5 separate regions of the Homo sapiens genome follow, and all the other regions are linked to region 3. Evidence: fine-mapped expression QTL. A gene starts in region 3. Each other region holds a variant in brackets. All regions are shown on one strand. Distances are between the middles of the regions.

Region 1 (5,105 bases), 31 kb after region 3:
GATGGTCTCAATCTCCTGACCTCGTGATCTGCCCGCCTTGGCTTCCCAAAATGCTGGGATTACAGGCATGAGCCACCGCGCCCGGCCAGCCATTTCTACGTCTTGCTGAAATCTCTCTTGCTGAAATGTCCCGCCGATTCATACTAAGTGCTTTCATTCTTGTGGCCTGGTTGACTGTATCTGAATGTAAAAAACTAAGAGTTTCAGGTTAAACATATCCAAGGAATAGGCAAGACGATCACAGCTGGATAATGGAGAATGAAAACAAGATGGTTTTCTAAGCAAAATCACCATCAGACTGTTCCCTCAAACCTGCTTCGAGGAGAAAGGCAGTTTAAACATTTTATAATAATAAGATAAACACTTTCGGCACTGACTTACATTTGCTGAAAATAATTATGGTCGTCATTTCAATCTTTGTATAATGTACTCCATGGAGAGGGGGCTTGGTGCGTGAGGAGGGGACAGGTGGCCAAGCTCTGGCTGGGCTGAAGGATATGCCCTGCCCTGCCCACCCTCATCTCCCTGATCCTTCTACTCTCTCCCACCTCTATTATGTCCTCCTCCTCACAGCAAGATAATGTAGGGCAAATAGAGTAGGCTTTGGGATCAAATGAATGTGAATTCAAATCCTAATTGGTATGAATCTAAGGTTACCCACTCTGAGACTTGGTGTCTTTTTTTGAGATGGAGTCTCGCTCTGTCGCCCAGGCTGGGGTACAATGGTGCAGTCTCGGCTCACTGCAACCTCTGCCTCCGGGACTCAAGCAATTCTCCTGCCTCAGCCTCCCGAGCAGCTGGGATTACAGGCACATGCCACCGCCCCCAGCTAATTTTTGTATTTTTAGTAGAGATGGGGTTTCACCATGTTGCCCAGGCCAATCTTGAACTCCTCACCTCAGGTGATCCGCCCGCCTCTGTCTCCCAAAGTGCTGGGATTACAGGCATAAGCCACCATGTCCAGCCAAGACTTAGTGTCTTGATCTGTGAGTGGCAACGCACCTTATCTTTCATGACAACTCGTGAGGAAGCATATGTAAAAGTCCCCAGCACCAGGCCAAGCACATAGCAGGTGCATAGTAACTGCTACTCCCTGCCTGCTAGCTCTCTACATTCCCAATTGTCCAAAGCCTCACCATACTTTGAGTAAAACCATCTCTTCTTCCATGAAACCTTTTCTAATTGTTGGAGATCAGCAATTTGCAGCCATTTGCCCCCATGTTTCACACAACTTAGGTTATGTTTACAGATTTCCACATCACGTTCCTCAGTCCCAGGGCCAAGACTGGGACGAGACGAGAGAGGCACTCACTCTCAGGGCCCTGCATGTGCCGGGTTGGCCCTGGACACTTAGCCTGTGCACAGACTTAGAAGTTTTAGACAAAGCCCTCTGGAGTTTTGTGGAGAGGTAGAGTACCGTGTCCTCTCAAGGCATTAATGGTGATGGCTGCCTGCTGTGCTGTGTGAAGTGGGCAGGTGGTAAGAGATTGGGGCCACTGCACCTCTTCCCTGCAACTCTCCCTTCAAGAGAGGGTACCTCAGCTCAAACTTTTCCTTCACCTTGCACGAGGTCATCAGGGACTTCTCTGTTTAGACATGCTAGGGCGAAGCTAGATGGCCTCATGAACGCTGTGGGTCTTTTCTCATATTGCGGTGGGCACTGGTGTTAAACTGCTTAGATATACCTTACCCAGTGTGACCTCGGGTGAGTTCCCTAACCTTCCTATGCCTTAGTTTCCTCCTCTGTGAGATGGGAACAATACTAGGATTCCTTCGGGTGGTTGTAGTGAGCATGAGAGGAGCTGATGCGTGGAAAATACCAAGGACGGTGCCTGAGGCAGTGTTCCCTTCGCCTTCCCCTCCATTTCTGCTGCTGAGATCCCTCAGTTAGCAGTGAGATTACCCCTGGAGAAGCGCGAGGGGAGGCATTTTGATTAAAAAGTCCCTTTCTTCTGCTCTTCTGCTGTGTCTTTCTCATGTGATTCATCCACTGACCCCTGCCATTTGAGTGTTGCTATGATCCTTGCCCTCTGATGGGACGAACACCTTGGAATCAGGCTGTCCCTGGGACCTCAGGCTCTAGGAACTTGACCAGTGAGCTCCCCCTGGAAATCTGATTCAGGCTGGCATTGCTTTTGTGTGACAGGCTCACTAAGGATGATTACTTAACGCAGGTCTTGAGTTCTTTCTTTTGTATTAATGTTTTGGAGTTGTTATCTCCCTTTTGTGTTTCTGGAAGGCCTGGAGTAGTTTAAGGGGTTTAGTTATGGATCACAGAAAGCAGGGAGGAGTGCCAGAATGGAGGCTCCTGCACTTGGCATTTTTAGTTGCTGCTCATGATCACTTACCTGTCATTACTGTGGTGGAGGCCTGGGGTATATTTCTGTTGGACA[C/T]ATCTGTCCTTCGGATGGAGGAGTTACCTCCAAATGGAAAGGCAGCAAGTGCCTGGACTCAGCTGGAGCTGGAGTCTTCCCTGTGTTCTTGGATTGAAATCTTTTGAGACTGATTTTATTTAATCTTTGTAGTAGAGGAGACTCTGGGCCAGGTGCAGTGGCTCATTCCTATAATCGCAGCACTTTGGGAGGCCAAGGAGGGTGGACCACTTGAGCCCAGGCATTCAAGACCAGCCTGGGCAACATGGCAAAACCCCATCTCTACAAAAAATTAGCTGGGCGTGGTGGCGCACATTTATAGTCCCAGCTACTCAGGAGGCGGAGGTGGGAGGATTACTTGAGCCTAGGAGGTCGAGGCTGCAGTGAGCCATGATCACACCACTGCTCTCCAGCCTGGACAACAGAGTGAGACCTTGTCTCAAAAAAAAAAAAACAAAAAACTGTAGGTTTTGAAATTGTTAAAGAACATGACCTACCTGCTAATGGAAACTCCAGGTATCCTCAAGTGAGGGGTCATTGGCTTCCATTCCAGTGTCCATTCCAGGGTGGACCAGGCAGCCTGCCTGGTGTGAATGAGCCTGCCTGCCAGCCCGAGCGCATCTCTCAGCTGCTTAAGTCACCACAGTGTCATTAACACACACTGGGGGGATCCCGACCTGGCAAAACCGGGCTCACAGCGTGTGGGTCTACACTGTGATTTACAGGGTTTGAACACAGTCCTTTCTAGCAGCTGGTTTTCTTTCTTTTTGGCTCCAGGAAATGTGCTAATCCCCTCACGGTGACTGAATATGGTATGTAGTCATAATTTATATTCTACTTACTGCAATCAAAGTCCCAATGGGGAACATGGGGCAGGCTCACAACAGAATACAAGAGGGAGGGGTTATTTATTATTTACAACTGCAGAGGTGTGAGTGGAGTCTAGGGGAGCTATTAATACAAGGGGCAGTGGGCACCTGGGGGGCAGCAGCAGAACTGTTCACTGCTCTTTCCCATGTGGGCATCCAAGTGTTTCTGGAGCCTAGAAGGAGAGTTGGGTAAAGTCAGCCCCAGAGGAGCAGTGACCTTCTGTCAGTCAGGCCATGCAGCCAGTTGGAGGCAGCTTTGCAGGGAAGGGGGCTGGGGAGGACGCACTCGGAACCTTCTCCGCTCCTCTCTCTGCTCTCCTGCTAGGGCTCCCCATGAATCAAACCCAACCAAAGGCCAGAGGGCATGAAAGGCCATCGCCTTGGTTTATACCAAGTCCCCTGGGGCAGAGAGCAGAGAATCTGGAGGGGCAAACGGAATCCCTCCAGCAATCCCACCTAAAAAATAATTCAGGGATTCAGAGAGCTTGTGAGCAAAAAGAAAAATGAAAAACATTCAAAATCAAGCACAGAATCAAGGCAAGATGACTCTCCGAGGAACCTAATGTGAAATGATTACTGGGATATTAATTTTTGTGTTGAACTTCCTAGCAGCCATGGCAGAGGGGAAACCTGTGTATAGACACATGTGGTATATGTCTACAGAGGTCGACTAGAAGGAACAGTGCCCCAGATGCCCCTGGGGTCCACTTCACGTTCCTGTCCCAGAGCTTGGCACTGATGCTACCTGCATATCTTGAATGAATCCAGGTGCCCATCTTACTAGTCAGAGAAGAGATGCAGTATTCTAATCTGGGAAAATGTTTGTTTTTAGGTTTCAAGGAGGATTTTCAGATGGACGTTTTTAAAATCCTGGCAGCCATCCTACATCTGGGCAATGTGCAGATCACCGCGGTGGGCAACGAGAGGTCCTCAGTTAGTGTGAGATGCTCATTTGTTTTACTTTTCCTTTGTCTAAGGGTCATAGTGGAACTGGCTCGCAGCTGACCTGCCTTTGCTTTTTAGCACCAGATATAGTCGGCCTCCTGGGTAGACTGGTTTAACAGGAGGCAGGCGGCAAGGGTTTCCAGGGCTTGCCTTCAAAGAGTAAAGCCTCCTCCCCTTGCAACAGTAGAGGAGGGGAAATGGATCTCCTGTGTGCTTTTCTTTTATTCAAAAAGTATGTATGAAGCACCTACTAAGTGCCACGGACTGTCATAGCATCTGGGGAAACAGCAGTGAACAAAACAAAGCAAGAAGCCCTTCAGGGAGCTTATGATCAAGGGTAGGGAGGAGACACAACAAGCAAATATGGGCTCTGGCAGCTGACGGCTGGCACAGAGGAAAGTAAAGCAGAGGGGGCATGCAGAGGTGCTGTGTCTTTCATGTGGGGTGGTCAGAGAAAGACTTTCTGAGAAGGTGGTGGGTGGCAGCCTGCAGGGGATGAAGAAGCAGGTTGTGCCTGTGGATGGGGGAAGAACAGCAAGTGCAGAAACCCGCAGGCAGGAGATGTCATTTGAAAAACAGCACGAAGGTCCATGTATCCAGAGGGTGAGTGACAGGGAGGGTGTGGATGAGGCCAGAGAGGGGAGGGGGATTGCAGACCACATAGGACCTTAAGGGCACTGGGTAGTTTTCAGCAGAAGGACACCCACTACCTCCTTACACCTGCTTGAATCAGACATCAGTGGTGCTGGCTTCCTGGGAATGTATTGTAAGTTTTGTGAAAGATTTCTTTATTTAATGGACACAAGTTAATTTGATGTGTGTTTCTTCTATGACATATACTATGAGTAGTGATTCTTGGGGGAGGGGTATGTGTTTAATTAGTCTCATCAATGTCCATGTAAAGAAGAAAACAAACACA
Region 2 (5,105 bases), 710 kb after region 3:
ACAAATGGACCAATAATATGAATAGTCAGTTTACAGAGAAAGAAATATAAATGGCTGATAAATATGTGAAAAGATGCTTATCTTCTAATAAAAATACAAATTAGAACAGGGAGATGTCAGGTTTTGTTGGAATGGAAAGATTAAAACATTTGATAATGATTGGGGTTAGTGAGTAAGTGGAGAAATAGGTACTTTTATACAGCTTGGGGCTATAATCTTTTTGGAAGACAATTTGCAGTTGCAATTAATTTTAATCACTGATCCAGCATATTATATCTTAGAATTTATCCTGTAGGGATTCTTGGACACATACGCATATATCATCTATACATACATGTTCATCGAAGCATTGTTTGAAATAGTAAAAGACTGGAAACAACCAAAATTAATTATGGCAAAGCCACAACATGAAATACTAATACTGTGCAGCTATTAAGAAGAATGAATATAAACAGAGCCAAAGACAAAAACCACATGATTATCTCAATAGATGCAGAAAAAGCCTTTGACAAAATTCAACAACCCTTCATGCTAAAAACTCTCAATAAATTAGGTATTGATGGGACGTATTTCAAAATAATAAGAGCTATCTATGACAAACCCACAGCCAATATCATACTGAATGGGCAAAAACTGGAAGCATTCCCTTTGAAAACTGGCACATGACAGGGATGCCCTCTCTCACCGCTCCTATTCAACATAGTGTTGGAAGTTCTGGCCAGGGCAATCAGGCAGGAGAAGGAAATAAAGGGTATTCAATTAGGAAAAGAGGAAGTCAAATTGTCCCTGTTTGCAGACGACATGATTGTTTATCTAGAAAACCCCATCGTCTCAGCCCAAAATCTCCTTAAGCTGATAAGCAACTTCAGCAAAGTCTCAGGATACAAAATCAATGTACAAAAATCACAAGCATTCTTATACACCAACAACAGACAAACAGAGAGCCAAATCATGGGTGAACTCCCATTCACAATTGCTTCAAAGAGAATAAAATACCTAGGAATCCAACTTACAAGGGATGTGAAGGACCTCTTCAAGGAGAACTACAAACCACTGCTCAAGGAAATAAAAGAGGACACAAACAAATGGAAGAACATTCCATGCTCATGGGTAGGAAGAATCAATATCGTGAAAATGGCCATACTGCCCAAGGTAATTTACAGATTCAATGCCATCCCCATCAAGCTACCAATGACTTTCTTCACAGAATTGGAAAAAACTACTTTAAAGTTCATATGGAACCAAAAAAGAGCCCGCATTGCCAAGTCAATCCTAAGCCAAAAGAACAAAGCTGGAGGCATCACACTACCTGACTTCAAACTATACTACAAGGCTACAGTAACCAAAACAGCATGGTACTGGTACCAAAACAGAGATATAGATCAATGGAACAGAACAGAGCCCTCAGAAATAATGCCGCATATCTACAACTATCTGATCTTTGACAAACCTGAGAAAAACAAGCAATGGGGAAAGGATTCCCTATTTAATAAATGGTGCTGGGAAAACTGGCTAGCCATATGTAGAAAGCTGAAACTGGATCCCTTCCTTACACCTTATACAAAAATCAATTCAAGATGGATTAAAGATTTAAACGTTAGACCTAAAACCATAAAAACCCTAGAAGAAAACCTAGGCATTACCATTCAGGACATAGGTATGGGCAAGGACTTCATGTCCAAAACACCAAAAGCAATGGCAACAAAAGCCAAAATTGACAAATGGGATCTAATTAAACTAAAGAGCTTCTGCACAGCAAAAGAAACTACCATCAGAGTGAACAGGCAACCTACAACGTGGGAGAAAATTTTCGCAACCTACTCATCTGACAAAGGGCTAATATCCAGAATCTACAATGAACTCAAACAAATTTACAAGAAAAAAACAAACAACCCCATCAAAAAGTGGGCGAAGGACATGAACAGACACTTCTCAAAAGAAGACATTTATGCAGCCAAAAAACACATGAAGAAATGCTCATCATCACTGGCCATCAGAGAAATGCAAATCAAAACCACTATGAGATATCATCTCACACCAGTTAGAATGGCAATCATTAAAAAGTCAGGAAACAACAGGTGCTGGAGAGGATGTGGAGAAATAGGAACACTTTTACACTGTTGGTGGGACTGTAAACTAGTTCAACCATTGTGGAAGTCAGTGTGGCGATTCCTCAGGGATCTAGAACTAGAAATACCATTTGACCCAGCCATCCCATTACTGGGTATATACCCAAAGGACTATAAATCATGCTGCTATAAAGACACATGCACACGTATGTTTATCGCGGCACTATTCACAATAGCAAAGACTTGGAACCAACCCAAATGTCCAACAATGATAGACTGGATTAAGAAAATGTGGCACATATACACCATGGAATACTATGCAGCCATAAAAAATGATGAGTTCATATCCTTTGTAGGGACATGGATGAAATTGGAAACCAACATTCTCAGTAAACTATCGCAAGAACAAAAAACCAAACACCGCATATTCTCACTCATAGGTGGGAATTGAACAATGAGATCACATGGACACAGGAAGGGGAATATCACACTCTGGGGACTGTGGTGGGGTCGGGGGAGGGGGGAGGGATAGCATTGGGAGATATACCTAATGCTAGATGACACATTAGTGGGTGCAGCGCACCAGCATGGCACATGTATACATATGTAACTAACCTGCACAATGTGCACATGTACCCTAAAACTTAGAGTATAATAAAAAAAAAAAAAAAA[AG/G]AAAAAAAAAAAAAAGAAGAATGAAGTAATTTCCTCTGTGCTGATGTAGAAAGTTCTTCAAGATACATTGTTAACTAAGTGGAAAATAAGTGGCAGAATTGTGTATAGCATGATCCCATTTATGTTAAAAGAAGATATATAAAAGATATACTTTTATATATTGAACATTTCAGGAAGGGTTCATAGGTAATTATTAAGTAATTGCTTCCTGGGAATGAGGAGGGGAGGGGTAAGAAGGGTGAAAAGGATGAGAAGGTGACTTCATTTTCTTATTTAATTTTAAAATTTAATATATGTGTGATTTCCTCTATGAAAAAGAAAATCTTGTTACTGAAAACATTAATATTAAACATTTTATGTGCCTTATTTACCTTGTACATGATTTCAATGTATATGTGACTTGTGAAATTTCTTGCTTAATCAGGAACGTATTAAGGAAACCTATTTGTCCTTTTTAGAAATTAATAATTCTGAGAGTATCATAAAGAGCTAGGGTTTTAATTAGGTGACTAAAATGGAGAGAAGGAATGGGTGTTTTCCTGGGAAATCTTTGTTAATCTGTGTTTTGTCCTCTTGGTTGTAAGATTTTTCATATGTCAACACTGGCCTCTTAAGACTTTCTATAAGATCTCTTGGTACAGCCAAGTAACCATCAAAGCCCAGACAACCCTGCCTTCCTGTTAGTTTTTTTGTTTATGAGCAAAGATCACAGCAGAAGTGAAGAATTTAAATGCAATTAATAAAGAGCAAAAAATTTGAGCAACAGAAAACGAAACGATAGAAAAATGTCATTAGTAAAGTGGAAAAAACAGTAAAGAGGGCTGAGTTTGAATTATAGTCATGTATTTACCTTGTGACATAGGAATTTGATTAAATCCTGTGAAATTCCTTTTTCAAAAATATTAAGGTGGGATTAATAACCAACTTCTAGGATTGTGGCAGTCTTGAAAGAAAGATTAGGAATATAGAATGAAAATAGTATAATACTTGTCACCCAGTAGGTTTTTAATAAATGGTACCTCCTTCTTGTAATTATTTTTCTAACTCTTAATAAAATGTACCTTCTTCAGTAGAAAAGTAGACATATTTACATTGATCAAAACTCACTCCCAGGGAGCGGTGGGAGTTTAATAGTAACACTCTTGATATAGTATTCTTGGTAAGATTATAGTACTTTGTTAAACCTCTCAACATGCTTAGTACACCTTGATTTATCAGGTTTTGTTTCTTTTTTTTGGTCTTTGAAGTTTAGACACTTATCAGTAGTTGTCAATGATCTCAAACTTTGACCCTGTAACTTCCGGGATGTTAAAACATCCAACTATTCTATAGTAAATGCTAATGTAATTAATCTATTGTATGCTATAGTTTCATAGGAAATGTGGTCATGTTTGTTTAAGCTTTTTAAAAGTTTTCCTTTTGTTACTCTCCACTTCAATTTATCTGAGACATAAAGGAAATTTGAGAAATTAGAACAGTGTTTGTGGGATTAGAGTATTAGTTTTCTTTTCTGAAAATAATGTAGTTAAGACAATTATATATAAAACTAAAGTTAGAGAAGACTGAATGAGTGTGTTATGCCTCTTCACACTGCATTTTAAAAGACCTCTCAACATGCCTAATACTCCCTTATCAGTGCTTTTTTTGTCTCTTAAATTTAGACGCATCTGTCAGTGGTTGTCAGTGATCTCAAAATTTGCATTGTTCATTAGGACATTAAACCCTCTAGAGCAGCGGTCTCCAACCTTTTTGGTACCAAGGACCGGTTTTGTGGAAGACAGTTTTTCTACAGCGAGGGGTGAAGGAGAGGGATGGTTTTGGGATGATTCAAGCACATTATGTTTATCATTAGATTCTCATAAAGAGCATACAGCCTACATCCCTAGCATGTGCAGTTTACAATAGGGCTTGAGTTCCTATGAGAATCTAATGCCACCGCTGATCTGGCAGGATGTGGAGCTCAGGCAGTATTGCTCACTCACTCACTGCTCACCTCCTGCTGTGAGGCCCAGTTCCTAACAGGCCATGGACTGGTAGTAGGAATTGGGGACCCCTGCTCTAAAGAAAGCAGCAATATCTTTATTGTGGTAATAGTACCACAGCAAAGAAAAGAAACACATTCGCACAACTTTAAATACAATTTTTCGGAGTTCAGAGACCTACTGAGGCCATCTATGACTTATGTCTATTAGACTTCAGGTTGAAAACTTTTAGTTTCAATGTTCAAAGCAGAGAATACTTTTCTCTTTCCTAATAGGATGGATTTGGTCTATAAGAATAGGATTATAACAAGTGAGGGTTAATATTTTTAAAGTTTTTTTTGGATGTAACAGCTTATGCTACAGAATTATCTCTGAGCTGTG
Region 3 (5,105 bases):
AAAGCTCAGGAATTAGGTTCAGAGGCAGCAGGTAACACTGAAAGTGGCATGCAGCTGAAAACACAGGAATTGGTTGAAAATCTGTTTAAATAGCAGTTCAAGTGGACTTGAACAGACATTTCACAAAAGAGAATACCAAAGTGGTCAATAGTCATCATAGAAATAAATGCAACTTGGACCCACAGTGAGACATCATAACACACTCATCAGAAAGGCTATTTTTTAAACTGACCACATCAAGTGGTGAGGATATTAAGCAACTAAAAGTCTCACACACTGCTGGTAGAAGTATACATTGATATAACAATTTTTTACAAATCTCTTTAGCATTATCCGTTAAAGTTGAGCATTACATACCTGTGATCCAGCAATTCTGCTCTGTTTATGTGCCCAACAAAAATACATATATTTGTGCATCAAAAGACACATATAAAATGTTCATAGCAGCATTATTCATAGTGGGTGTAAACTGAAGCAACCGAAATATTTATCAATAGGAGAATGAATAAATTGTAGAATATTTATACAATGGAATACTACTAGACAGGAATGAAAGACCTCAAACCGCAGCTACATGCAACAAGATGAATAAATACCATGTAAAAAGCCAAATGCAAGAGTTACACATGTGATTCCATTTATTAAAAACATCCAAAACAGGTAAAACGCATCTATGGTGATACAAATCAGAACAGTGGTTATCTTTGAGAGAAAATGATTTGAAGAAACAGAGAAAGTTTTGGGATATCGGTAATGTTCTACGTCTGGATCTGGGCGGTGGTTACTTTGGTGTGTTGATGTGTTCCATGAATAAGAATATATTGAGCTGTACACTTATTATTTGCACACTTTTCTGTATATAATTTTATTCTTCAATAAAAATTTTCTTTAAATAAAAAAGGCAGCTAGATTCTCTTTTTAACTCTGAGCAATCAGGCAGCTGTCACTACTCACCTTATAGATTTTCTTTTTCTTTATACAAAATAGAATTATTTGGGCAATAATATAAATAATTTTGTATATAAATAAATGCAAAATTAAATTTACCATGATCCTCTCTTTGTGGCATTTATCATTATTGATCCATGCCAGGCCTCTCTTTATATTTTTTGATCCCCTTTTTGAAATCTCCGATTCCATTTCTCTCCCTCATAGGTATCCACTCTTGCATATTTAATGAATGACTTTGTAATTTATCCTCCTTACCTCTATTCACACATACTTGTACCCATGAACAATATTCAGTATTGCAGTTTTTGTGAGTTTTTAAATATTAAAGACTTGGGCTAGACATCTATTCAACATTGTTTTTTATTTCTGAGTCAAGTAGATCATGTCTATTCCTACTAACAGCTGTAGAGTTTTACATGTATATACTATTTCTTTTTTTATTTTTCTCTGCTGTCTGCCATGTATATACTATTTTATTTATTCCCCTATTGATATTTAGATGCTTCCAACTCTTTGATAAATAACTATGTTGTGATGAACATCTACTTAACTGTCTCTTTGGGTGACTGTGAGAATTTTTCTGCCTACATTTATTTTCATAACTATTCTCAAATTGCTCTCCAGGATGGCAGTATATTCCCACCAGTTATGTAAGCAAAAAAAGTTTTTATTTTTTTTATTTATTTTTTTTTTTTTTTTGAGACGGAGTCTCGCTCTGTCGCCCAGGCTGGAGTGCAGTGGCGCAATCTCGGCTCACTGCAGGCTCCGCCCCCTGGGGTTCACGCCATTCTCCTGCCTCAGCCTCCCGAGTAGCTGGGACTACAGGCGCCCGCCACCTCGCCCGGCTAATTTTTTGTATTTTTAGTAGAGACGGGGTTTCACCGTGTTAGCCAGGATGGTCTCGATCTCCTGACCTCGTGATCCGCCCGCCTCGGCCTCCCAAAGTGCTGGGATTACAGGCGTGAGCCACCGCGCCCGGCCAAGTTTTTATTTTCTCACATCCTAGGCAGTATCTGAGATTGTCTAACCTAAATGTTTTTGCCAATATGATGGGTAAAAAGCAATATCTCATTGTTGTTTTCATTTGTATTTATCTGATTACTGCTAAAGTTGACATCTCCTTGTATGCTAACAAGCCATTTAAGTGTCCCCATCTGTGAATTGCCTATTAATTTTTGTCAGTTTTAAAAATTGGATTTCTTTTCTTTAACCGATTAACAATTCTTCTATATGGAAACTACTATAACCCAACATTTTAAAGATATTATCCCTCTTTTATTCCTAATAATTTCCCGGTTTTAAGTTTTAATCGTGAATCCATCTGGAGCTTATTTTTGGATGCAGTGTTTGCCACGGATCTGCTTTTATTGTTTTTCCATATAACGGGCCCATCTAATAAATATTATTTTATTTCCCTATCTGGTCCTTAAGGCTACCGTATAATGTAGGGCCCTGCTGGGGGGCTCCAGCATGTTCCATTACTCACGTATCCGTTCTCACGCAAGTGTCACACTGTTTTAATGACTACTGCTTTGTTATGTCCCTAAATATATGGCAGGACAAATCTCTCCTCTTTGAGAATTGTCTTAGTTATACAGGGCTTTTATTCTATATGAAATATAGAATCATTGTACAATTCTCCAAAAGTTCTGTAGGATTCTGACGCCAATATATTAGGCATATATATTGATTTGGGTAGAAGTGACACCTTGACCATATTAAATATTCCCAGCCAGGAAAATGGCATGTCTCCCGTTTACCTGGGCCTTCTTTTAAGCTCTTTAAGAGAATTTTAAACATTTTCTCCACAAAGGCCAAGGGCATTTTTGCGAGTGTAATCTCTGGATACTTTATATTTTCACTAATATTGTAAATATCTTGTATTGCATAGACAATGCTCATATAAAGGACCATTACTTATTTTTGTATTTGATTTTGAATACGATGACCTTGCTGGACTCTTAACACATTTCTTTGTGTTCAGTACGTTGATTCCCTTGGGTCTTCCATTTAAATGGTCGTATCCTCTGCTCTTTGAGGAGCTAACACTCGGGCCGGGCAGCCTCCGGATGCATCTGTTCCTGCCTGGCAGCGCGCCCCGGGCCCCAACCTTCTCCACCCGCGCTCCCGCCAGGTGCAGCCGCCCGGCCCCGGCCAATGGCAGCGCCGACTAGCCGGGCCAAGCTTGGAGGGACCAATCCCGCCGCTGCCCCCTCCCCTCGCCGCCAACTCGGGAACGGGAACAGGAGGCCGTTGGAAAACTTTGGGCAAGATGGCCCGGCGGTGATTTCCGCGGCGGTCTCTCCTGCGCCCGGCCTCTGCGGCGCAGGCCCAGCCCCCGAGCCTCGCACGTTCGGCAGCCCCGGCCTGGCCCCGGCCCCTCCTGCCCATGGCGGTGGCCGAGCTGTACACGCAGGTAGGAGGGTCCGCTGGGCTCCTGGGAGCGCTGTGGGGGAGCCGGCCCTGCTAACGCTGACTCGACCTGGCGCCCGGGCCACACCTGCCACACCTGCGCACCTGACACGGCAGGGCGGGCGGGCGCGCGCTGGGGGCCGCGGAGGCGCCGCGGAGGGGCCACGGGGACCGGGGACACGAGCGAGCGTCGCCCCTCCAGGGCCCCGGCGTGCTCCGTCCCTGCCCGCGGGTAAGCCCCCTCCTGGCTCCGCTGCGCCTGGGTGCCCTGTGGGTGGGAAGACCCTGTGGGAGGGGCCGCCCCCTCCGCCGCTCCGGCCTCGGGGCCTAGAATCCCCAGTGCCCAGGGGTCGCGCGTGCGTCCCCATCTCCCGGGACTGGAGCGCCTCGGTCCCTTCCTACCACACCACGGGTGGAATCAGAGTTGCCCATGCGGACGTAGGAAGCTGAGACGCCGGCCAGTCTCCTGGCCCCTCCTGGGACCCCCTTGAACGAGCTGGCATAGAAGCTTATGGCCGCAGTGTTCGGGCTGCTTTCTAGAATTCTGTGTCTTCAAAGTGCGTGAACGTGCATGTAGGCTCATCAGAAGCTGAAGCAGCCTGGGTCACAGGCTTGAGGGCACTGCAGTGGCACCAAGCGCTTGGGGAGCCCAGGGGCCACGAGGTGCAGTCGTAGGCTCTTTGCCTAACATCTGTACTGTTAGCAACAGTACAAACACCACAGTTTCTAAAGCGCCTTTCATATACCCTGACTCTGGGAAACACTAGAGCATTCCTCAGAAGCTTCCTTTCTGCTGGCTGGGGCTCCACCTCTTACCTCGGAAGGGCAGCGTTCCCACATATGTCCCAAACCCTCTGAGATGGGCTTGGGTAATTATTTGGATAAAGAGTGTGACAGTGTTAGCACTTTTGAAAAAAAAAATCCATTTGAATAGCCATAAAGCCTGATCCTCCTATACACCAGTTGGGGAAATCTAGAGACCTCAGTATTCAGACGAGTGGAACTAGAATCCATCCATTTCCCCGGACACATGCTCTAGCTTTCTACTTTAAAAGATGCTTTTGCTGTAGATAGAAAAGATAGTTATTTAAAAAATCATGTTTCAATGGTTTAAGCAAACGTTTTTCTTCTACTTTGATTACTTAGTAACAGTCCGGACACAAAGCAACCGAACTGTAGTTTCTCCTCTATTGCATCTCCATTAACTGGAGTTCTAAATGGACAGTGTTTGAATTGCCCTAGTTTTGTTCTAGAATATTTTCACCAGTGAGACTGTGAGCCCTCAGACAGCCAACAGCGCTTCTTCAGCCTTCAGTTTACTGGAAGTGAAAGAAAAGTCTTGGACTAGTCTTCGACGATACTTTGGAGGACAGAGAAAAATGCTGCTGCTGAACCTATTTGAGGTGACAGTATTTCCAGAAGCAGAAACACACAGGTGCAAGCACCCCTATTTTTAGGTGCCTCAAACCTCAGATATTTATTAAATGTCTAGTAAGTACCAGGCACAATGTAAGAAAACTGATAGGAAGGAGTTTAAAGGTACAAGCTTGGAGGGAATGAGAATCTGAGAATCCCAGAGACTGACGCAGCCTGATGGCCATTCCCACTGACCTTGTGTCCACGTAGACACCTGTGTTCCTAGGCTGCCACCTCCCTTCCTGGTGGGCAGTTAGCCCCCATTTTGTCTGTTCTGGAGGTGTGAAGGGGAGGGCCATGGCAGCCAGAGAGCGAGGTCAGGGCTT
Region 4 (5,105 bases), 53 kb after region 3:
GCATGTTGAGCAATTACGATGCCTCAACACATAATATCATTGTCTTTTTAAAGATTTGACTCCAAAAGAATTGTTCAGCAGCTGCGAGCCTGCGGCGTTTTAGAAACGATTCGCATTAGTGCACAGAGCTACCCTTCCAGGTATGTTGTCCGTCCTTGTCTTGGAGGGAAAAGTACCTGACATCAGAGCTATGCTGAGAACCAAGGACATGGCTGCCATGATTTTTGTCACATACTTTTGGCTTCTGTAAAGTGCCCCCAAGATTTTCCCACTGCCCTGTGGAAGTCCAGAAGAGGTTGAGAAATAGGCTTTGTAGGGGTCGGAGGTCAACACCACCTTCTCACCCCATCACTGCATCTCGGCTGCTGGTGGTGGCCCCACCGCCTCCCCCGTGTACTAGGGAAGACGCTGAGTGGGAGAAAGAGCACAATTGCTGGGGCAGACAGGAGTGCTCAGGGTGGTCTTGGTAGTGTCCCAGGCAGGCAGGGTATCAAAGATCAGTGCCTTTATCCTCAGGACAGATTGCACCACCCCCGCCCTATGACAACAGTGGCAGGTAAGGCAGCGGAGTCCCCAGACACAATGTGCTTCCTCTGACACTCCTGGCTTTGATCCCCTTTGATTTTCCAGGTGGACATACATCGAGTTCTACAGTCGCTACGGCATTCTCATGACCAAGCAAGAGCTTTCCTTCAGCGATAAAAAGGAGGTGTGCAAGGTGGTTTTACACAGACTCATCCAGGTCAGTTTCCCCACCTCCTGGGATCATGGTCTCCTTCCTGGAAGCACATCTCCCAAACATGCTGTTTCATCTTTGTCTTGAATGCTCAGGACTGTAATCATGAACACCTGAAAGGAAAGAAAATGTGCCCTGAGCATTTGTCTGCTGAAGAGACCATAGCAGAGTGCTCAGTGGGCCATGAGTCCCCGTTAGGGACCCACATCCGAACTCCGGCCTCCCCAGTGTCCTCGTATCCTGTTTAGCTCTCCCACGATCTAACCCAGTCCTCTGTGGACCAGGCTTATAGGATATGGTCAACTGGGGTTGTCACCAAGCCACATGGGCTCCAGGCATGGTGCCTTGTGTGGATTGACATCATTGCTGCAGCGATGAGTTGTGATGGGAAAGAGATGGGGAGTTATAAGGTCCAGCAAAGGGGATGGTGAAGAGAACCCAAAATGGAGACAGAAAACCAAACTTCCCCAGTTTCTTCTACTCCAATGTGGAGACCACGAGAGAGTGGCTGAAGTTCTCTGGCAGCCCAACTGAGAATCGCCGCAAATGACACTCACTCCCCTTCTCACCCACAAATGGATTCCTCAGCCTAAGTCCCATTTCTTCCTCCAGGGTAATTTTAAACAAACAACTCAAAGTATACATTTCTAGATCATGATGTGAGTTTTCTGCCTTAAATGTCAAAATCACAATATTTCTGGCACCTTTGAATCCCTAAAGCTCTTTTCCAAATACTGTATTATAGAAAATCTGACAGATTTTAATTCTAACTATATCATTTTTCTCTTCCAGGATTCTAATCAGTACCAGTTTGGTAAAACCAAAATTTTCTTCAGAGCAGGACAAGTGGCTTATTTAGAGAAACTTCGATTGGATAAACTGAGGCAGAGTTGTGTTATGGTACAAAAGCACATGCGTGGCTGGCTCCAGAGGAAAAAATTCCTCCGAGAGAGACGAGCCGCCCTGATAATCCAGCAGTACTTCCGGGGTCAGCAAACTGTGAGGTATGTTGGAATCAAGGAACACATGTGGAACTGTGGGGCTTTCTGTGCTGATCATCTCCGGCGGGGAGGACTCATCAAGGACAAGGGACCTTTCTCCTGTGACCCAGGGTGCAGACGTGCATGGGTCCCCTTTGTGGTCGTGAGCATTAGGGCAAGAAAGGTCCGTCTCTCAGGGGCAGGTAGTGCTGGCTCTGCCTGGTGTCTGTGTGGTGAGCCGACACCCAGGGCCCTGCAGGGAGGAAG[C/T]GCTGGTGAGAGTGTTACTAAGGAGAGTCAGGGTTCCGGAAGCTCAGGGAGAGGCCCGGGGCCCCTTTCCTATGGGAACTGAAAATGCATAAGATCAGCAAGGCCCTAGTGAAGATCCAAAGGACAGATGTCAAGAATAGCCAGCGACCAGCCTGCCAGCAACAGGTGGGGTGCACCATGGCAGAGGGGGTCCCTGCAAGGCCTGGCAGCAAACCAATCACAGAACCCCTAAGCAGGAAGACCACAGCAGCCCCAGCCAAGCCAAGGGCTGAGGGGAGGGTGGTCCACCAGCTGCGCTGATCCTACCTGCCTCGAGGGGTCCTGAGAGTCCACACAACCCTGCCAGCCCACTGAAGGACCACGGTCATTCCGGGACTTCCAGGGCTTTGGTGTACCTGCTGGAAAGCACAAGACCAGGGTGCCCCTAGATAAACTTTGTGTTTCTCTCTGCCTGCTCTGCCCCTTCTTTGGGATGCTGTGAGGATGCTTGAGAAGGCCGGCGTTTAGGGTCAGGCTGCGTCTGCAAGCCTGACTTCTTCCTGAGCTGGAGGCTGAACTGTGGCAGCATCTGGCCTTCTCTGCATGACCAGCGTGGTGTGGCATGGATCACACAGCTGGGCTGGCTTGCCCTCCTGTGCTTCTGTGCCCAGTTGATAACAGCAGTCTTTGGGGAAGGAAATCACAGTTATCTTACCCGCCAAGGCCACGCTCCCTTCCCATTTGGGGCTCACCAGAGCCTGATCATCCTGCCCTGCTGGCCTCCTGCCTATCCCATTCATTTCATCCCACTCCTGCCCCCAGTTTAGGCTCACGGCATCACCTGCCTTGCACTCTGATGGCACCGTGCTCCACCTCCCACCTCCTTCCCATCTTCCTACATCAGAGCCTGATTGAGACACTGCCCTGCACCTGCCTTTAAGGCCCGTGTTTCCTACAGAATAGCATTCAGTCTCTGACGTGATATTCAAAGCCCTCCATAGCCTGGGTGCATTCATAAGAATGGAAGCTCCATGAGGGCAGGGGCCACACTTGTCTGGTCATTCATACCCAGACCTAGCATGGTGGCTGTCATAGAAGGTGTTCAACAAATATGTTTTTAAAATAACAAATGGTGCACATCTATTTTTCTAACCTCATTGACGTCTAATTTTCTTCATCCATCTTATTCTAGTGATTCCAAACAAACTCCTTTTCTGAGTATTTCAGGCACTGTAGAGCCTCCATGCCTTTACTCATGCTGGTCCCTTATCCTGAAAGCCTTTTCCAGCCTTCACTGTGTACAGACATCCTACTGCATTGGGGGCTGGCTCACATACCCACTTTCCCCAAGCAGAATAACTGTTTTTTTCCCCTCTCACTTACAGATCTAGTTAGGTGGTATTTTATTTTTCCTCTTTCTTGGCCATTTGTTAGTCTTTCTGTACATGAGGTTGTAAACTCTAAAGGTAAGGACATTATCTTCACCTCTAGTCATTTAGACAGGGGCAGCAAACTTTTTCTGTAAAGGACGAGATGATAACTATTTAAGGCATTGGGGGCTTGCAGTCTCTCCTGCTGCTGTGTCATGAAAGCAGCCGTGGGGGATATGTAAATAGTACGTGATTGAGCAAGTGCAGCACCAGTGCACAGTCTCATCATCGTCTCTGTGGGTACCTGAGTGGAGGTGAATCGACTGGCCTGAATGAAAAGAGTGAAAGTTCCCATGTGGTTCCTCAAGGACAGGGAACTGGGGACTGGCCTCAAGTAGGCATTAGAATAAACTGCCCACAGAGTTTAATGTGGAGAGGTGTAAAATATTTGAACCTTCCTTATAAACACATGCTAGCCAAGCTTGCAGCTCTGTTATGGAAGTTGATGCTCTGTGGGTAACAGACTCACTCTTCATCCTTGTTAACCAAGGAAAGCTATTACTGCAGTGGCCTTAAAAGAAGCTTGGGCAGCCATAATCATTCAGAAGCACTGCCGCGGGTATCTTGTTCGCAGCCTGTATCAGTTGATTCGCATGGCCACCATCACAATGCAGGCCTACAGCCGAGGATTCCTGGCAAGGAGGAGGTATCGAAAGGTGAGGCCAACCTCTGTCTAGAGGAAGGGAGGGTGTACGGGCCTTCCTTACTGAGAACAAAACAGGGCCCAGGGAAAGACTTCACTATGGGCAACCTCACTTTGTACAAAGTGTCAGCCAAGCCAGAAAGGAGATTCTTCCAGGTGCTGTGGCTCATGCCTGTAGTCCCAACTACTCAGGGAGCTGAAATGGGAGGGTTCCTTGAGCCCAGGAGTTCGAGGCTGCAGTGAGCTATGATCATGCCAGTACACTCCAGCCTGCGTGGGTGACAGAGGGAGACCCTGTCTCTCTCTCTCACACACACACACACACACACACCAGTTGCACTGTTGGTTTCTCTTTCTCCCAGTTGGCCCCAAAGAGACCACACCAAAGGAAAGTACATTTTAAGCCAATAATGTGCACCTAACAGACAGGATATACACCTAACAGACCTCACCTAAAGCAGAGACTGGGTTGGGGAAAGAAATTTTAAAAGATCAGCACACTGGCTGGGCACGGTGGCTCACACCTGTAATCCCAGCACTGTGGGAGGCCGAGGTGAGTGGATCATGAGGTCAGGAGATCGAGACCATCCTGGCTAACACAGTGAAACCCTGTCTCTACTAAAAATACAAAAAATTAGCCGGGTGTGGTGACGGGCACCTGTAGTCCCAGCTGCTCGGGAGGCTGAGGCAGGAGAATGGCATGAACCCGGGAGGCGGAGCTTGCAGTGAGCCAAGATTGCACCACTGCACTCCAGCCTGGGTGACAGAGTGAGACTCCGTCTCAAAAAAAAAAAAAAAAAAAAAAAAAAAGATTAGCCCACTGCCACCCCACAGACTGTAGAGAGCTCTCACAGCCAGATGGGATGTCCAGGGTGTCCAACTCCAAAGAAACGAATTCAAAGTAATATAAAATTGAACAAGTTTTCTACATAAGCTATTCAAGATTTCTCCAGCACTGACTAATACAAAGCACAATGAGATGGCTCTTTTAGAGGCAGCAGCTTTAGACTCAGAAAAGGGTGATGAGATGAGTTTCATACGGCAAAAAAATAATTTTCTTTCTTTCAAGG
Region 5 (5,105 bases), 530 kb after region 3:
TGTCTAGGGGTTAATAAAGTTTACCTCAAGGGCTTCTGTGCCCAGAGAAATATATGACTCAGAAAAAACTCAGTAAGATTTGCTCTCTTTTCCTCTTTCCTTCTTTTTCCCCTAAACAAGACTAGTCCTTTCTCAACCAACGGAAAATATTTCCCCCCATTTACATTGGGCTGGTTTTTGAGAAATACATTTGCTGTATCACACTGTAGTGGCTATGAGGTTCTCTATGAATTTGTAAACACAGGTGACCCAGAACCAATCAGAGGAAGAAAAGAAAATGTGCATTCCGAGCTAAGGGATTTCTACCATTGTTTAAGGACCAAGCCATGCCATTTATCCATACTATCATTAACCACTCTGCTTCAGTTCCATGTCACTAACCTCAGGATCTAGGTCATCTAGAACATTTTCCAACTGTTTCAGTTCCTCTTCTGAGAGTTTGCCAAGAAGCTCATCTTCATCAATGTTCTTGTATTTCTCCAGCTCTTTTTGAAAGGGGAGTGCCATGGCTTCTTATAAGCCTTTCTCATGGGCCATGCACATTTAAATGGTCCAGTTTCCTGAGACTTCAGAATACTGTTAATAAAAAAGAAACACAATAAAAAAGAATCTCCGTTCTGTAAACAGGACTTATTAACAGGAGACAGAAGTATGCCTCCAATGGAGCCTACTGTATTGAATGAATAATTCAACAAAAAGGTAATATTCCCTTCATTTGCAGAGCAACCTGACAGCTTACAAAGTGTTTTCACATATTTCACTTATTTTGATCTTTACAACAATCCTGTGAGGAAGCCCGTGACGATATTATCATTCCCATTTTATAGATGACAATTCTGAGGTGAAAGTGGCCTAGTGCCTTGCTCGAGGTCACAGAGCTGGGATGCGTGAGCCCCGCCTTCTGATTCCCAGCATAGTGGGTGCTTTTCCCTTATACTACTCTGCCTTCCCTGGCTCTCCATAGAAAAACAGGGGAGAACAATGCACTAATTGTAAGGCAGTTGTAAGAAGCATACTTGTGTCTTTTCAGGGAGAGAGTGATGTGAAGAATACAAAATGGGATTCATTCAGGAACGAGAGTTTGGAACGTCTATGTGAGAAAGCATTGTCCAGTAACTCCCCTGCAATTAAACTAAGTGCGATTCTAAAATCCTGGCCACATGATCACTCTCTCTATTTTTCTCCTTGCTTTGTTTTCCATTCTATTTCTAGTCCCATTTCCTTTTTGTTCTACGTATTCATTCTTTATACCCTCAGACCGTTCTTCTCTCGACCCTTATTTTTTATACCACCTCACTTCTAAATATTCACCCAAAATGCAATTTTTACTCAATCCCTTTCTCCTTGCAGAGGATTCTACAGATCTTCCTTAGAAAGATAATACTCATTCAGGAAACAGTAATGTACTTCACTGACTGTGTTTCTCCTTAGGAGGTATTACCACCAATCACATCTTTCAGGCCAATAAATATTTGTTATATACCTACTATTTGCCAGGCATAGTTCTAGCAAACAGAAATACAAAGATAAACAAGATATGCCACCTTTCCCCAAGAAGATCACAGCTTAGTGAGACAGGCACACAAATAGCAATAATGTCATAAGTATTAGACGTAACGTATAAAGTAGGTTTAAAAACACATGAGGAGGCCAGGAACGTTGGCTCACGCCTGTAATCCCAGCACTTTGGAAGGCCAAGGCAGGTGGATCACCTGAGGTCAGGAGTTTGAGACCAGCCTGACCAATATGGTGAAACCCCATCTCTACTAAAAATACAAAAATTAGCTGGGTGTGGTGGCATGTGCCTGTAGTCCCAGCTAGTCGGGAGGCTGAGGCAGGAGAATTGCTTGAACCCGGGAGGCAGAGGTTGCAGTGCTGAGATGGCATCACTGCACTCCAGCCTGGGTGACAGAGTGAGACTCTCTCAAAAAAAAAATTATATTTATCAAAATGCCCCCTCTCCCCAAGATCACAGCTTAGTGAGACTCTCACACAAACAGCAATAATGCCGTAAGTATTAGACATAATGTAAAAAGTAGGTTTGAAAACACATGGGGAAATAATCACTGAGTAAGTGGGGGAAGTTTGAGGGGAAACTGTGAAAAAGAGGCTGTGTTTGAACATTGAAGGAGGAGGTCATAAGGTGGACATGAATGGGCAAGTGTCATTCTAGGAAAAGGGAACAGCACAAAGGGGTACAGGATAAGACAGTAAATGATATGCTGGTAGAGCAGGCGGCATGGCTACAGAGGGGGATTCATGGAGGAAGGGAGAGGAAAGAACTAAAGACGAGGGTGGGACATCTGTGAAGGGCCTTCCTTCTGCGCCTTGCTAAGGGACCTGAACTTTATTCTGTTGGGAATGGCAAGCCACCACAGCTTCTTAAAGTAGGGGAGTGATCTGAGCACGCCAATCTTTTTTTATGAGTTCAAATCATAAGAATGAAGAATGAGTTGGCATGGAACGAGACTGGCTGCAGGTGGGCCTCTTAAGGGCTATTGGAATAGTGTT[C/T]CCTTTCCTTTGTGAATTCAACGGCTCACAATGTTCAGGTTTGTGGTTTCTGTGTCGATACCCCTTTCACATGCAATGCAACGCTCTTTTCCATTAGCTCAGCTTCTTATTTATTAATTTAGAGATAGGGTCTCCCTCTGTTGCCCAGGCTGGAATGCAGTGGTACCATCTCGGCTCACTGCAACCTCCAGCTCCTGGGCTCAAGTGATCCTCCCACCTCAACCTCTGGAGTAGCTGGGATTACAAGTGTGCAACACGAAGCCCGGGACTACAGGCATGTGCCACGATGCCTAGCTAATTTTTAATTTTTTTTTGTAGAGATGAGGTCTCCCAGCCCTCCTTTTTTTTTTTTAAATCTTTAATGACTATATTCTAGTAAATAAACAAACAAAAATTCTACTAAAGTCAGAGAAACCAATTGGATCCTATACACTTTGTTCTGGTGCCAGCTACCACTAACTTACTGCATCACACAGGACAAGGATGGCATCTTCCAGGCCCTTATCCATCAAATGAATTGGTTGAAGCACCCTACTTAATGGATTCTAAAATGCATACTTTGCCACATTTAACATTCTGAAATTGAGATGTGTCTTAGAATTCATGGTGTCCTACAATTACTGTTGTCCCAGCAGCAGTAAAAATGTACTTGTCATTGCTTGTATATACCTAAATATCAAAAGCACCAACTTCAAAACTAGCAGAGTGGATGTAAAGGTCTTGGAAGGAAATCCCAGGGACAACTGTGGAATACTCTTTTAAAATTTAGAAAGCAGACAATCGTGGGGAGGTGACAATGCAGGTATGTTTAGCAGCACTCCTGAAGAGAGGCCCAGATTAGGACAGTTCCACATAATTACAGAGTGAGTTTAAGTGCCCAGTTCAATGGCTTTTAGTTTTAGTTTTGTTTTTTTACAGATTTTTTAAATTACCACTCGATGGCACAGAGGAAATTATTATGTGGAAAAGAACCAGATATGGATAAGTAAAATAGTGATCTAAAATGTTGGACTCTGAGTGTGAAGAAGTTTTAAGAATATCAACTAATGAATGCATTTCACTTACATTTCCCCTTTTAATGTATGCACAGGAGAGATATATGATTTTAAAAATCCATGTATATTCATAGCACATTTATTTGTAATTGCCAAAAATTGAAAACAATGTGAATGATAGTAAATGAATAAAAAACAAATTGTGACCAGGTGCAGTGGCTCACGCCTGTAGTCCCAATGTTTTGGGAGGCTGAGGCAGGAGGATTTCTTGAGCCCAGGAATTTGAGACCAGCCTGGGCAACACAGTGAGACCCCGTTTCTACAATTTTTTTTTTTAAAAATTAGCTGGGCATGGTGGCACATGCCTGTAGTCCCAGTTATTCGGGAGGTTGGGGTGGGAGAATTGCTTCAGCCAGGAGGTCGAGGATGCAGTGAGCTATGATTGCACCACTGCACTCCAGCCTGGGCAACAGAATAAGACCCTGTCCCTAAATAAATAAATAAAAATAAACAAATTGTCGTATATCCACATAATGGAATACTTCTCAGCAATAAAAGGGAATGAACTATTGATGTACACAAAAACATGGATGAACCTCAAAATAATTATAATGAGAGAAAGAAGACCAAAAAGAATGTATACTGCAGGATTCCATTTATCTAAAATTTTAGAACACATAAACTAATTTATATGACAGAAAGAAATCACAGTTGCTTAGGCATGGGAGAGAGGTGGGAGGGGCTGATGAGAGGAATGACATAGGGGCATGGGGAACCTTTTGGGGATGTTGCATATGTTTACTACCTTGATTGTGGTGATGGTTTCACACATACATGCATATATCAAAACTTATCAAACTGTACACTTGAAATATGTGCACTTTATTGTATGTCATTTACACTTCAGTAAAAAAGATTTCAAAAAACCTATGTGGAAGTCGAAAACAGCTCTTTCAATAAAGTAAAAATTATTATTATTTTTTGAGACACGGTCTCAGTCTGTTGCCAGGCTTGAGTTCAGTTGTATGTCAGTACAACTCACTGCAGCCTTGACCTCTTGGGCTCAAGCGATTCTCCCACATCAGTCTCCTAAGTAGCTAGGACTACAGGTGTGCACCACCATGCCGGGCTATTTTTTTTTTATTTTTTGAAGATACAGGATCTCACTATGTTGTCCAGGCTGGTCTCCAACTCCAGTCTTCAAACAATCCTCCCAGCCTGGCCTACCACAGTGCTGGAATTACAGGTATGAGCCACTGTGCCCAGCCAAAAATTTGTATTTTTTTTTTTTTTTGAGGCAGAGTCTCACACTCACACCCAGGCTGGAGTGCAGTGGCGCAATCTCGGCTCACTGCAAGCTCCACCTCCCGGGTTCATGCCATTCTCCTGCCTCAGCCTCCTGAGTAGCTGGGACTACAGGTGCCCGCCACCACGCCCGGATAATTTTTTTTGTATTTTTAGTAGAGACAGGGTTTCACAGTGTTAGCCAGGATGGTCTCGATCTCCTGACCTCGTGATCTGCCTGTTTCGGCCTCCCAAAGTGCTGGGATTACAGGCATGAGCCACCGTGCCCGGCCAAAAATTTGTATTTTTAAGAAA

What was found.
Region 1: its variant is fine-mapped to the expression of MYO5C in sun-exposed skin (GTEx, PIP above 0.99).
Region 2: its variant is fine-mapped to the expression of MYO5C in monocytes after R848 (Quach 2016, PIP 0.95).
Region 4: its variant is fine-mapped to the expression of MYO5C in whole blood (TOPMed, PIP above 0.99).
Region 5: its variant is fine-mapped to the expression of MYO5C in monocytes after LPS (Fairfax 2014, PIP 0.95).

What each region holds. Positions count from the first base shown.
Region 1 is chr15:52,263,265-52,268,369 of GRCh38, reverse strand. It overlaps MYO5C (myosin VC), which reads left to right. Exons shown (of 41, transcript NM_018728.4): 9 at 4,074-4,180. Among named protein-coding and RNA genes, the nearest start is that of MIR1266, 11 kb to the left of the region's middle. The variant C/T (reference allele first, on the strand shown) is at 2,394.
Region 2 is chr15:51,580,759-51,585,863 of GRCh38, reverse strand. All of the region lies in intron 1 of DMXL2 (Dmx like 2), which reads left to right. Among named protein-coding and RNA genes, the nearest start is that of DMXL2, 39 kb to the left of the region's middle. The variant AG/G (reference allele first, on the strand shown) is at 2,742.
Region 3 is chr15:52,293,872-52,298,976 of GRCh38, reverse strand. MYO5C (myosin VC) reads left to right here and starts at 3,173. Exons shown (of 41, transcript NM_018728.4): 1 at 3,173-3,367. The coding sequence starts at 3,341. LOC105370819 (a long non-coding RNA gene) reads right to left here and starts at 4,093. Exons shown (of 4, transcript XR_932250.3): 1 at 3,766-4,093. RefSeq lists a silencer at 3,350-3,509 and an enhancer at 4,951-5,105.
Region 4 is chr15:52,240,991-52,246,095 of GRCh38, reverse strand. MYO5C (myosin VC) reads left to right here. Exons shown (of 41, transcript NM_018728.4): 17 at 54-140; 18 at 631-742; 19 at 1,529-1,740; 20 at 3,883-4,048. Among named protein-coding and RNA genes, the nearest start is that of MIR1266, 34 kb to the left of the region's middle. The variant C/T (reference allele first, on the strand shown) is at 1,984.
Region 5 is chr15:51,761,844-51,766,948 of GRCh38, reverse strand. It overlaps TMOD2 (tropomodulin 2), which reads right to left. Exons shown (of 10, transcript NM_014548.4): 2 at 382-576. The coding sequence starts at 507. Among named protein-coding and RNA genes, the nearest start is that of TMOD2, 13 kb to the right of the region's middle. The variant C/T (reference allele first, on the strand shown) is at 2,512.